3 linked regions of the Homo sapiens genome follow. The protein of the gene in region 1 purifies or fractionates together with the protein of each later gene. This does not show direct contact. Each region holds a gene or a part of one and is shown in the gene's direction. Other genes may lie near its edges. The genes, in order: GPATCH8, ABCA2 and FDX1.

The links.
Region 2: the proteins of GPATCH8 (region 1) and ABCA2 purify together in Homo sapiens (affinity purification with mass spectrometry; one large-scale study listed by BioGRID and IntAct). This does not show direct contact.
Region 3: the proteins of GPATCH8 (region 1) and FDX1 purify together in Homo sapiens (affinity purification with mass spectrometry; one large-scale study listed by BioGRID and IntAct). This does not show direct contact.

The regions. Positions count from the first base shown.
Region 1 is NC_000017.11:44,423,396-44,427,043, reverse strand, and holds part of GPATCH8 (G patch domain-containing protein 8), read left to right. Parts: intron 1-2,551; coding exon 2,552-2,695; intron 2,696-3,648.
Region 2 is NC_000009.12:137,021,735-137,025,382, reverse strand, and holds part of ABCA2 (ATP-binding cassette sub-family A member 2), read left to right. Parts: intron 1-1,146; coding exon 1,147-1,240; intron 1,241-1,542; coding exon 1,543-1,545; intron 1,546-2,330; coding exon 2,331-2,442; intron 2,443-2,517; coding exon 2,518-2,681; intron 2,682-2,904; coding exon 2,905-3,032; intron 3,033-3,381; coding exon 3,382-3,492; intron 3,493-3,648. UniProt on the Homo sapiens protein: Probable lipid transporter that modulates cholesterol sequestration in the late endosome/lysosome by regulating the intracellular sphingolipid metabolism, in turn participates in cholesterol homeostasis.
Region 3 is NC_000011.10:110,428,333-110,432,080, forward strand, and holds the start of FDX1 (adrenodoxin, mitochondrial precursor), read left to right. Parts: upstream 1-1,615; 5' UTR 1,616-1,788; coding exon 1,789-1,973; intron 1,974-3,748.

The DNA.
Region 1 (3,648 bases):
TATGTATATGTGTGTATATATGTACACATACATATAACTCCATATATACGTGTATGTATTCCCTATATTTGAAAGATACATATAAAATCCTAAGTTAATTCTTTCCTTAGATATCTTATAGTATTTATTGTACCACTGTCTTCTGGAGTTGAGAGAGAGTGTGAGAGAGAGAGAGAGAGAGAGAGAGAGAGAGAGTGTGTGTGTGTGTTGTTGAAGAGATCAAAGGCTGGCCTGATCTTCCCCTTCTTGATTGTTTTTGCCTAGCTGCTGAAAGGAGTCTGTCTTTAAGATTCAATAACTTTACTACACTATTGATTGTCACTGATTGTTCTGGGACCATTTTCATTGTCACACTATGTGCCCTTTCTTGTCCTGTGTAGTTGAGTGGATCTTCCTTTAGTGAGCATGTGCTGATAGCCTTTTTTTTTTTTTTTTTTTTTGAGACAAGGTCTCACTCTGTCACCCAGGCTGGAGTGCAGTGGCGCAATCTTGGCTTACTGCAGCCTCTGCGTCCCAGGCTCAAGTGGTCCTCCCACCTCAGCCTTTCAAGTAGCTGGGACCAAAGGCAAGTGACACCATGCTCAGCTAATGTTTTGTATTTTTGGTAGAGCCGGAGTTTCACTGTGTTACCCAGGCTGGTCTTGAACTCCTGAGCTCAAGCCATCTGCCTGCCTCGGCCTCCCAAAGTGCTGGGATTACAGGCGTGAGCCACCGCACCTGGCCTCAGCCTTTTCTTAGATCTGCCGCAATTGGGCAGAACTTTTTGCTTTTCTCTATGTGCATTCTTTGTACTGCAAATGTTTCCTCATCCACCCTAACCCAAGTTCATCCCTTTGTTCTTCCCAGATCTCAGAAATTCTTGATGAGTGCAAGAGATGTAGGTATATTCATTTCAGAGGATCCTTTTATGTACAGGATATATGTTTTGCCATTTTCTGAAATTGCCACCTTTGGCTTTTTTGATATTGCTTAGCTTTGCCTTGTCTGGCTTCTACTACATTTCCCTCATTCAGGTTCTATAAAGAGCTTAACTTTCCTTCTGTGTGTTTTTCATACTCCAGATCATATCTGTTGCCCAGTTCTTCTGAAAATGCAGTTGGTGGGGTTTTTTTAATTCATAATTTTGTTTTTATGATACCCAAGAAGAAAATCAAAGCTGTTTTCCTATACTGCTGTATTCATACCAGGAACTCTAGTTTTGTTGCTTAAATTTGCAGCCAGGTGTGGGGGCTGACACCTGCAATGTCATCACTTTGGGAGTCCAAGGTGGGAGGATCACTTGAGCCCAGGAGTTCATGACCAGCTTTGGCAGCATAGTGAGACCTCATCTCTACAAAAAATACAAAAGTTAGCTAGGTTTGCTGGTACACGCCTATAGTCCAAGATACTTGGGAGGCCGAGGTGGGAAGATTGCTTGAGCCCAGGAGGTGAAGACTGCAGTGAGCCATGAACTGCACTGTACTCCAGCCTGGGCAAAAAAGCCACAAGTCGTTTAATAGCCAAACAACATGAAACTGTCCGGGACTGTCAAAGAAAATTATTGTGAAGGATTAGATAGGGCAAAAATAACAATGTGCTACACATACTCACTTTTCAGTTTTAATAAGTCTGTCCAAATTAGTTCAGTACTGCCACTCCAGAAAATAATAACCTTTTCTTGTTTACTGATTAAGTAGCTCTTATGGGAGATGATAGAGCTGCTTTGAAACTGTAGATATAGTCTTTGAGATAAGACTTATCTTTTTTAGGTCAGTCTGCTAGAAGGAGTTGCTCATTATGAAAGTAATGCATCTACCCTGCTCTAAAAGTCAAGCAAGTAGTCACTTAGCATTCCTGTCCCTTTCTCATCCTTCTGTGCGACATTAGCAAATGAATATACTCAACTTGCTTTGAGGTATCTTTTAATTGTTTTCTCTTTTTTCCTTTTTGAGATGTCTTTTGATGTCTAGTTTTTAAGTGAAACTGCTGAGGCAAATTGGACTGCCTTTGAGTCAGTCCCACAGTTTTTTGTTGTTGTTGTTTTTCTCCAACCTCCTCTCACATGTAAGAGTCCCACAGTTTTCAATCTCGCTGAGACCAGCAGATAACACATATCTGTGGGTTGGCTTTCCAAGCAGTGCAGCTTATATGTAGAATGACCATAGAATATTTAACTCCATCATTGGCTACAGACTCAGGTAATGCTTTTTTCCTTCGTGTCTGAAAACTAGACTATTAATACAGGTTGTATATCCCTTATCCAAAATGCTTGAGACCAAAGGTGTTTCAGATTTCAGATTTTTTGGGGGTTTTGGAATATTTGCATTATACTTATCAGTTGAGCATCCTTAGTCCTTTTAAACATTTGTTTATTTGAAGACAATTGTTAGTATGACGACACACAGATTACCCACCAAAGTACCACTTGTGTTTCATCCAGCTTTTACTGGTACCACTAAATATTATGAAAAGCCCTTTTTTGTCTTCTCAGATAGACTGTTTTCTCTATAACATTCACTTAAAGTTTTACCAAGTTCATTTTTTGTTTCTTTGTATTTCATGGGTCTTGAAGGATTATGTTGACAAAGAGAAGGCAATTGCCAAAGCCTTGGAAGACCTCAGAGCCAACTTTTATTGTGAACTGTGTGATAAGCAATATCAGAAACATCAGGAATTTGATAACCATATCAACTCCTATGATCATGCACACAAGCAGGTGAGTTGTAGTTACTTGCTAACAGAAGAAGGTACCTATCTATTGTTACAACAATTGGATTTTATGAGTATACCCCCCAAAACTTGGTGTCTATGATTTCTTGTGTCTGCCAATCTTTATCTGCAGTCATCCAACACACTTTGTTTTTTCAGTGGCAGAAATCCTGACATAGACACCACCTCCAGCCCACACTCCCACATATACACTATTTGACAAATTGTGTTTTGTAAATCTTATATAATGTTTTTGCCTTTTATTGATTTCTAAGTTTTTATTTAATTTTGTAATTCAGCTGAGGGTCACTGGGAGCTTTGTTTCCATTTCTGCTCTTAACGCGTTAAACTTTGAAGAGTTATTCAGCAGACTGTTATTTTCAAGTTCCCTACATAAGATTTCATGCTTTATTGGCTACCATTTTCTATTATTAAGTCATTTTGCTATTCAATATACCTTGGAAGTTAGATAAATTTTGAGAAGGAAAATAAAATTAGATGCTATCTTAACTTTAACAAAAAACTCTGTTGCTGCATGTTGAAGAGCTGATAAATGAATTACACTTTGCAGTCTTTGCCCCCTCCCCCGCCGCCACCCCATCATTTTAGAGGAGAAAATTGTACCTAACTAGTTACTGATATACAGAAGATGGCAATAATCCCCCTGGGAGAGTTTAGAAGGGAAAAATAAATTGTTACACCTATAGGACAGTTCTGGCTTGTTAAAGAATTTCAAGCCATTTGATCTTGGGTGACTTTAACATAACTTACTAGGTTTTTGGGGGGTACAATAGTTGTATTTGTTAAACTTGTAAATTTATGAGCATTGGAATGATGTCTCCTAAGCTGGACTTGTTGAACTAAGATTTTTTTTTAGCCTTCATCTTCCACCAACCATAAGATTTCAGTGCACAGGTAAAAGGCAATCTTTGACCAAGTTTTATTCTTACTAGAACTGGA
Region 2 (3,648 bases), on another chromosome or scaffold:
GGGAGGGCAGGGCCCCTCTGTCCTGTGGGTCTCAGAGAGGGCTGGTCTGCCGAGGGCTCTCTGGAGGGTAGCTGGCTCAAGCTCCTCCTCCTCCCTGAGCTGGGGGCTGGGACACAAGAACCGGTAAAGTCCTTGGTTTTCAGGTGAAGTGAGCAAAGCACCTCTTTCTCACTCCACGCAGGTCCCACTAGGGCTCACCTTGGTGCCCAGCCTGGGTTAGCAGGAGCCGACCTGGGGAAACTGAGCTCCAAGGCCCAAGACTGGCTGCCCCGGGTCAGGAGAGGGGACAGGGCAGAAAGAGGTGCCTTTGGGCCAGGTGTGGTGGCTCACGCCCAGGTGGGCGGATCACGAGGTCAGGAGATCGACACCATCCTGGCTAACACGGTGAAACCCCGTCTCTACTAAAAATACAAAAAATTAGCTGGGCATGGTGGCGGGCGCCTGTAGTCCCAGCTACTCGAGAGGCTGAGGCAAGAGAATGGTGTGAACTTGGGGGACGGAGCTTGCAGTGAGCTGAGATCGCACCACTGTGCTCCAGCCTGGGTGACAGAGTGAGACTCCGTCTCAAAAAAAAAAAAAAAAAAAGGTGCCTTTGCTTCAGGGACTGGGGCTGTTAGACCCCTTACCAGGTCTTCTCCGAGGCTCAGGGCCCTGGGCGCAGGCCAAGCCTCTCAACCAGGCCTCCTCATCTCCCCAGGCCCCGGTATTGGTGGGGAGGAAGTGGGAGGAAGGTGAACCCGGGGCAGTGTGGGAAGTGTAGGCGGGGCTAGTGGCTCAGATGGTCCCCAAGATTTTGCCCAGGTAGCCCTGGAGGTGGGGAGGGAGAAGATGAGCTGGGATATACATGGGTCAGAGTAGACCACAAGCTGGCCGATTTGTCCCTGTAGGCCCTGAGGCTCCTCAGAGGGCACGTAGGCCCAGTGTGGGCTGGGGACGGGAAACCTGATTTGCTGAGCCAGACAATCCTTACCCTCAGTGCCCTGGAAGGGGCTCAGACCTTCAGTGGTTCCGAAGGGCCTGTGCCCACCTTCCCTGGCCCCAGGGAGCACGTGGTCCTGTCTGGGCTGGGCCAGCCCTATGGGAGGCTGGGGAGGGCCTAGGCGAGCACAGGTCTGTCCTATCCCTCACTGGGCCCACCCTTTCCAGTGGGTCCTGGCCTTCGAGATCTTCATCCCCCTGGTGCTGTTCTTTATCCTGCTGGGGCTGCGACAGAAGAAGCCCACCATCTCCGTGAAGGAAGGTGAGTGCGGCAGGAGGCCCCAGGCACAGCCGGGGGAGCGCGGCACCTCGCACGCCTGCGCTGTGTGTGCACATCTGCACACGGGTGTCCTGCTCCCGGAGTCCCTGAGGTGCGGTGCCTGCTCCCCTGTGTGGTCCTGGGCCGTGCCTCCTGGCTGGGCTGTGGAGGTCGGGGCTGGCCTGTGGCCGCGAATGATGATGCCAACGCCTCTTCCTGGTGATGTGGGCACTCACTGGTCTCCTCTGTTCTGTTTTGATCCCCCTCCCTCCCCGCATGGTCTCTTGTCCTCGGCTGGCATGCAGTCTGTAAGTGAGCGGCCACCTCCTCCTGGCTGGCCTGGGCAGCAGCTGCGGGGGGCCCATGGGCCGTCCTGGCTTGAGCGCCCTCCCCGCTTGCATTAACAGCCCTCCCGGGCCCCCTGCCGGCCTCAGGAACAGCTGGCTCCAGATGGGGGGTGGCAGGCAGTGAAGTGGGAGGTGGTAGGGAGTGAAAGGCCCGGCCACCTAAAGGCACAGCTGGTGCCTGGGTCAAGCTGAGGCGGCATCTCTCTGCCTGGCCTTGCCTTCTAGGGCTGGGGTGCCTCGGCTTCTGGGCTGAGTCTGGGCTGAGGCTGGGCTGGCCTGGGCTGGGGCTGGAGCGGCCTGGCTACTCTCCCTTCATACTCCTTCAGGCTCTTGCACTCACTCTGCTAACCAGCTGGCCAGAGGTCAGAGGTCACTGCCCAGAGGGGGTCCTTTGTCCTCCCCTGGGCTCTGTAGGCAGTGCCACACCTGAAACGTTTTCGGGGGGAGAGTGCCAGGGCATGTGGGCCTGCACTGGCTGAAAGGAAAGGAATGCTCTGGGAGTTATGGCAGAAGGGGTGGTGAGTGGCTCTTTGACCTCTGACCTGCTGGAGTCATTCGCCCCAGAACGCTTGGCCTGTAGCCCAGCTGGGGCCAGGGCTCTGTGCCGCCTTCTCCCTAACGCTGCTTCTCCTTCCTGACTTTCTCTAAATTTCTCCTCTCGGCCTCTGTCTCCCTCCCCTTCTGGATTCCTCTCTCTCTCTCTCCCCTTTCACCCCCGACCCTGCCCTCTCCCGTGGGTCTGCCAGCCTTCTACACAGCGGCGCCCCTGACGTCTGCCGGCATCCTGCCTGTCATGCAATCGCTGTGCCCGGACGGCCAGCGAGACGAGTTCGGCTTCCTGCAGTACGCCAACTCCACGTGAGTGCCCACCCGCCCCTCGGAGCACCCACCCCTCCCCAGCCCATCCAGTGAGTGACATCCGCCATGGTGCAGGGTCACGCAGCTGCTTGAGCGCCTGGACCGCGTGGTGGAGGAAGGCAACCTGTTTGACCCAGCGCGGCCCAGCCTGGGCTCAGAGCTCGAGGCCCTACGCCAGCATCTGGAGGCCCTCAGTGCGGGCCCGGGCACCTCGGGGAGCCACCTGGACAGATCCACAGGTGTGCCCTGTGCAGGGAAGTTGGGGGGCAGGGCTGCGGGCAAAGCTCTGCTGTCACTGGGCTGAAGCCCACATCCACTCTGGGCCCCTCCACCTGCACTGAGTTCCCAGCCACGCACAGGCTGCAGTGGCAGAGCTGTGGTGTTGGGCTCGGCTCCGAGCGCATGTGGGGGCACCTTGCCAAGGTGCAGCGGCCTCTCAGCCTCGCCTTCCTGCCTGTCCAGTGTCTTCCTTCTCTCTGGACTCGGTGGCCAGAAACCCGCAGGAGCTCTGGCGTTTCCTGACGCAAAACTTGTCGCTGCCCAATAGCACGGCCCAAGCACTCTTGGCCGCCCGTGTGGACCCGCCCGAGGTAAGGCAGGGACAGCTCCCAGCCCTGGCCACTCCCTTCTGCCCCAGCCACGCCCCCTGGTTGCTGAGCCATCCTCAGGATGCTCAGCCTGAGTCACGCCCAGACCGTCTGAACCTTGCCCCCACCATCTGAGCCACGCCCCCACTCTCTGAGCCATGCCCCCACCATCTGAGCCACGCCCCCACACCTACATCGGAGCCACGCCCCCACCATCTGAGCCACGCCCCCACTCTCTGAGCCACGCCCCCACCATCTAAGCCACGCCCCCACACGTCCATCGGAGCCACGCCCCCACCATCTGAGCCACGCCCCCCACACCCCATCTGAGCCATTCCCCCACACCTCCTAGGTCTACCACCTGCTCTTTGGTCCCTCATCTGCCCTGGATTCACAGTCTGGCCTCCACAAGGGTCAGGAGCCCTGGAGCCGCCTAGGGGGCAATCCCCTGTTCCGGATGGAGGTGAGGGCATCCATGTGTGGGATGGGCCTGGAGTGCTGCCTGCCTCTGGGGGTGCTTCTGCTCCGTGGGTGAGGAAAGGGCCCCTTTGGTGACTTGGAGCTCCTCCTGGGAGAGGGGGAGGGTCCCAGGGGTCTATGGCAGGCATGAGGGGTAGAG
Region 3 (3,748 bases), on another chromosome or scaffold:
TAATGAATTCTGATGATTATTAATGGAAATTTCATAACATCAATTTATTCACCAATATTTATTAGACCCTTGATATGTTCAAGACCCTGTAGCTGGTGCTGTCGGAGTCACTAAGATGAACTATATAAATAACTACTCTATGTGTACGAATAACTACCCTACAAAGCAGAAAGCTATCAAGTGCCTTAAGGGAGTTGAAACTGTATTTGCTACAGGAGGGCTGAGAGAAGACAGAACATCTACGATTTTTTTTCTTTTCAATTCTCTTCCTACAACTAATTCATCCGACCTTGGAAGTTTGGTCTTACTAAAAACAAAAGTTAGCTGTTCTTTTACAACCTCCTCTTCAAGATTACTTGTCAGGGTTTGCTGTGCCCTTCGCAGCTTGAAAGACTTTCTCTTCATCCAACGATTTGAGGCAATTAGGAGCCACTGCCTTCTCTCTGCCATTGGGTTCCAGAAAGCACCATACATTGTCCGCAGATACTTTACTCATGCTTACACTTTCTTGTTCTGAATCTTCAAAAATTAGTGGCGTGTGGTGGCACACGCCTGTAGTCCTAGCTACTCGGGAGGCTGAGGCAGGAGAATCACTTGAACCTGGGAGGCGGAGGTTGCAGTGAGCCGAGATTTCGCCACTGCACTACAGCCTGGGCAGAATAGAGAGACCCCATGTCAAAAAAAGAAAAAAAAAGTATCTGATTGTGTTTAGCATATCTGCAATATCCCCTTGACTTTGGCCTTTAGCCTCTTTATGAGTACCCTGATGGAGGAAGGCCCAGGAAGCGGTAGCCTTCCTGGTTTGTGACGCACGGTGTGCATTGCGTATTAGATTAACATCAGAATGGCCCTGAAGGCTGGAACATCTTATCTGTGTTTGAGAGTTATGGAAACTCTGATCCTCCATGAGAATAATTTTTCCAAGGTCTCAGATCTCTAAAGCAGTAGATCTTGGATCTGAACATTGCTATTTCTGACCTTAAAGCCCATGCATTTCCCACAACATATGAACCATGATAAGGTGTATTTTAAAGTTCATCTTTTCTGTTTTTTGTGAAAGTCTTTTAGAGATCTCAGCTCATCACAAAGTTTCCGGTTCAGTCTCGTGGGTTTCATGTACTCAGCCAGCATTTACTTGCCAGTCAAGGTCTAGGATGGCTACCTGTCCTCTGCAGGAGCCCCAAGCCTATTCATTAATTTCATTTACAATTTTATAGTCATAATTATTTCTTTGTATAATAGCATTCTGAGATTTTCCAAAATTTCCCACTGTTTTTGTTTTACAGTGGGCAGAATTCACTTTGCTCTAACTTGACTCCAAGATGACACAATTTCCCAGTTTTTTTTTTAACGGCTAGGGGATGGGGGTATGCGGAACAGAACACAGTGGTCTAGCTAACCGATTTCCGCTAGACGTCCAGCTATCTTTCAAAATATTTTGTTTCTGCACGGCAACTTCAGCCGCTAAAAAAGCATCCAGCTTACAACGGAACCTGGAGGGTTGGTAAAGGCCCCCTGCGCTGGCCCCGCCCCATGGGACCGGGCGGCGTGGGCGTGAGAGGCGGGGCGGGGCCGCGCTCTGCTTGCCAATGTCTTTATAGGTCACCCGGAAGGCACGCGGAACCTCGGCGCGGTGCTTCCAGCAGGGTCTCTCCGCCACTCCAGCCCCGCGCCCCTCGCCGCGGCCCTCGGGCGTCTGCGCCGCAGCTGCCGCCCCCGCCTCTTTGGAGTCTCTCGCGGCCTCAAAGCGCGGCCTGCGTCGCTTCCGGCAGTTCCCGACCGCGGGCGATGGCTGCCGCTGGGGGCGCCCGGCTGCTGCGCGCCGCTTCTGCTGTCCTCGGCGGCCCGGCCGGCCGGTGGCTGCACCACGCTGGGTCCCGCGCTGGATCCAGCGGCCTGCTGAGGAACCGGGGGCCGGGCGGGAGCGCGGAGGCGAGCCGGTCGCTGAGCGTGTCGGCGCGGGCCCGGAGCAGGTAGGGCGCCGTGCGGGCGCGATCGCCGGCGCGGGCCGGGGTCCCCGGTGGGTGGCGCCTGGCTCTCTGGGCCGAGTCTCTGGTTCCAGTGCCTTCTGCGCGCCGGGCCCACACCCCGGAGGCCTGCCTCTCGCCCCCCTCTTCTGGGGTGCTCTCGCGGCTCCGTCTCGCTGCTCGGTGGCGTCGCTGCCTCCCTTCCGTCGCACCGCAGAGTTCCTTTCCGCATCACCCACTCCCGGCGGGAATCGGGGACCCTGGACGCCCAGCTCCCTTTCCCAGCGCTTCCCGTGCCCTGAGGAAAGCCGGGACTTTGCTGCTGCTTGTTCTCCGTGTGATTTGTCTGGGATCTGACCTTTGCTCTGCCCGAAACTGGCAGTGACCTTCGCGACAGGCTTCCCTCCTGCTGTCCTGGCCTGACACACCTGCCAGCTGTTTTTTTCAGGGCCTTGCCCTGCTTTGAGAGGACACCCAGGTCCCAGGTCTTTGTCAGGGGGTGTCCAGGTAGAATACACCCAGCCCATACCCTCTGCTGCCCTGTAGGCCCTTTGCTAGTTGCTCAAGTGTTGAAAGCCCCTGCGTTGAAGTAATCTGCCGGGACTTGAAACTTGGCTTTGGCACTGATTGTCTGACGTGCCTAACTTGGTCAGTCCTTAGGAACCCAGTTTCTCCATTTGCAAGTTGGATATAATAACAGTGTAGACCTCCTATGGTTAATTGAAGAATCAATGAGTTAATACAGCGATACAGGTAGTCTTGTGCCTAGCACGTAATGAGGGCTCAGTAGATGCCACTTGGTAGCAGCAGCAGCAGCAGCAGCAGCAGCAGCAGCAGCTTCTTAGGTTCACAATGTTAAGAGAGTTTTGTATTAAATATTGAAAGAAATGTGACAATTTATCCCAAATGTGTTGAAGTTTTAGGTTCTTGGGCATATTTGTTTTTCAAAGACACTCCTTAGATATACTAGAGATACAATTTACACATAATTTTTACCAACATGGTGGCGATTTATATAATGCAGATCTCTCGACAGCTCTTTGACCGCATGATGTAGGGTAGCAGGAATCGAGAACTAGAGGGAGAGTGTGTTGGATTTGTACGCTGCTTTGTCTAGTTTCTTTTTGAGGTCTCTGAGAGCAGGGTCTAAGACTTTCAGTCATCTTTTCCCCACTAATCCCGTTATCTAGTGGGTGCTCCATACATTTTTGTTGTGTGAACTTTGGGGGAAATCAGGGAGAAGGCAAGCCAGATTTATTTGTTCCTGTTTCCTCTGCACTTCCCCCCCTGTCTTTGACCAGTGTGGGTACCTTGCTTTCTGTTATACAATGGATGAGTTTTGGACAACTGAATCAATTGGGACAGATATTGAACATGCTTGTGTAACTGGTATAAGGGAACATGAATGTTTTTGTAGTAATTGGGAGTTATCTTTCTCAGATTTGTTTTTTGGATTTGGATATGTCAGGTTGTTTTAAAGGGGAGCACGTCTATTTCCTCATAATCCTGCTGCCCTCTTTATTGGCACAATTTCTATTCATGGTCTTATCATTCCTCTTACAGACTTTGGAGCTACAACTGGATTTTCCAGTTCTTACTGTGTTAATGAGACTTGTGCTGTAACTACCGTAACTACTAATCACATGTGGCTATTGAAGTTTAACATAATTAAAGGTAAATAAAATTAAAGATTCAATCTCGTAGTTACACTAGCCACATTTCGAGTTCTCAGTAGCCACATGTGGCTAGTGGCTACTGTATTGGACATTGCAAGTATGTGT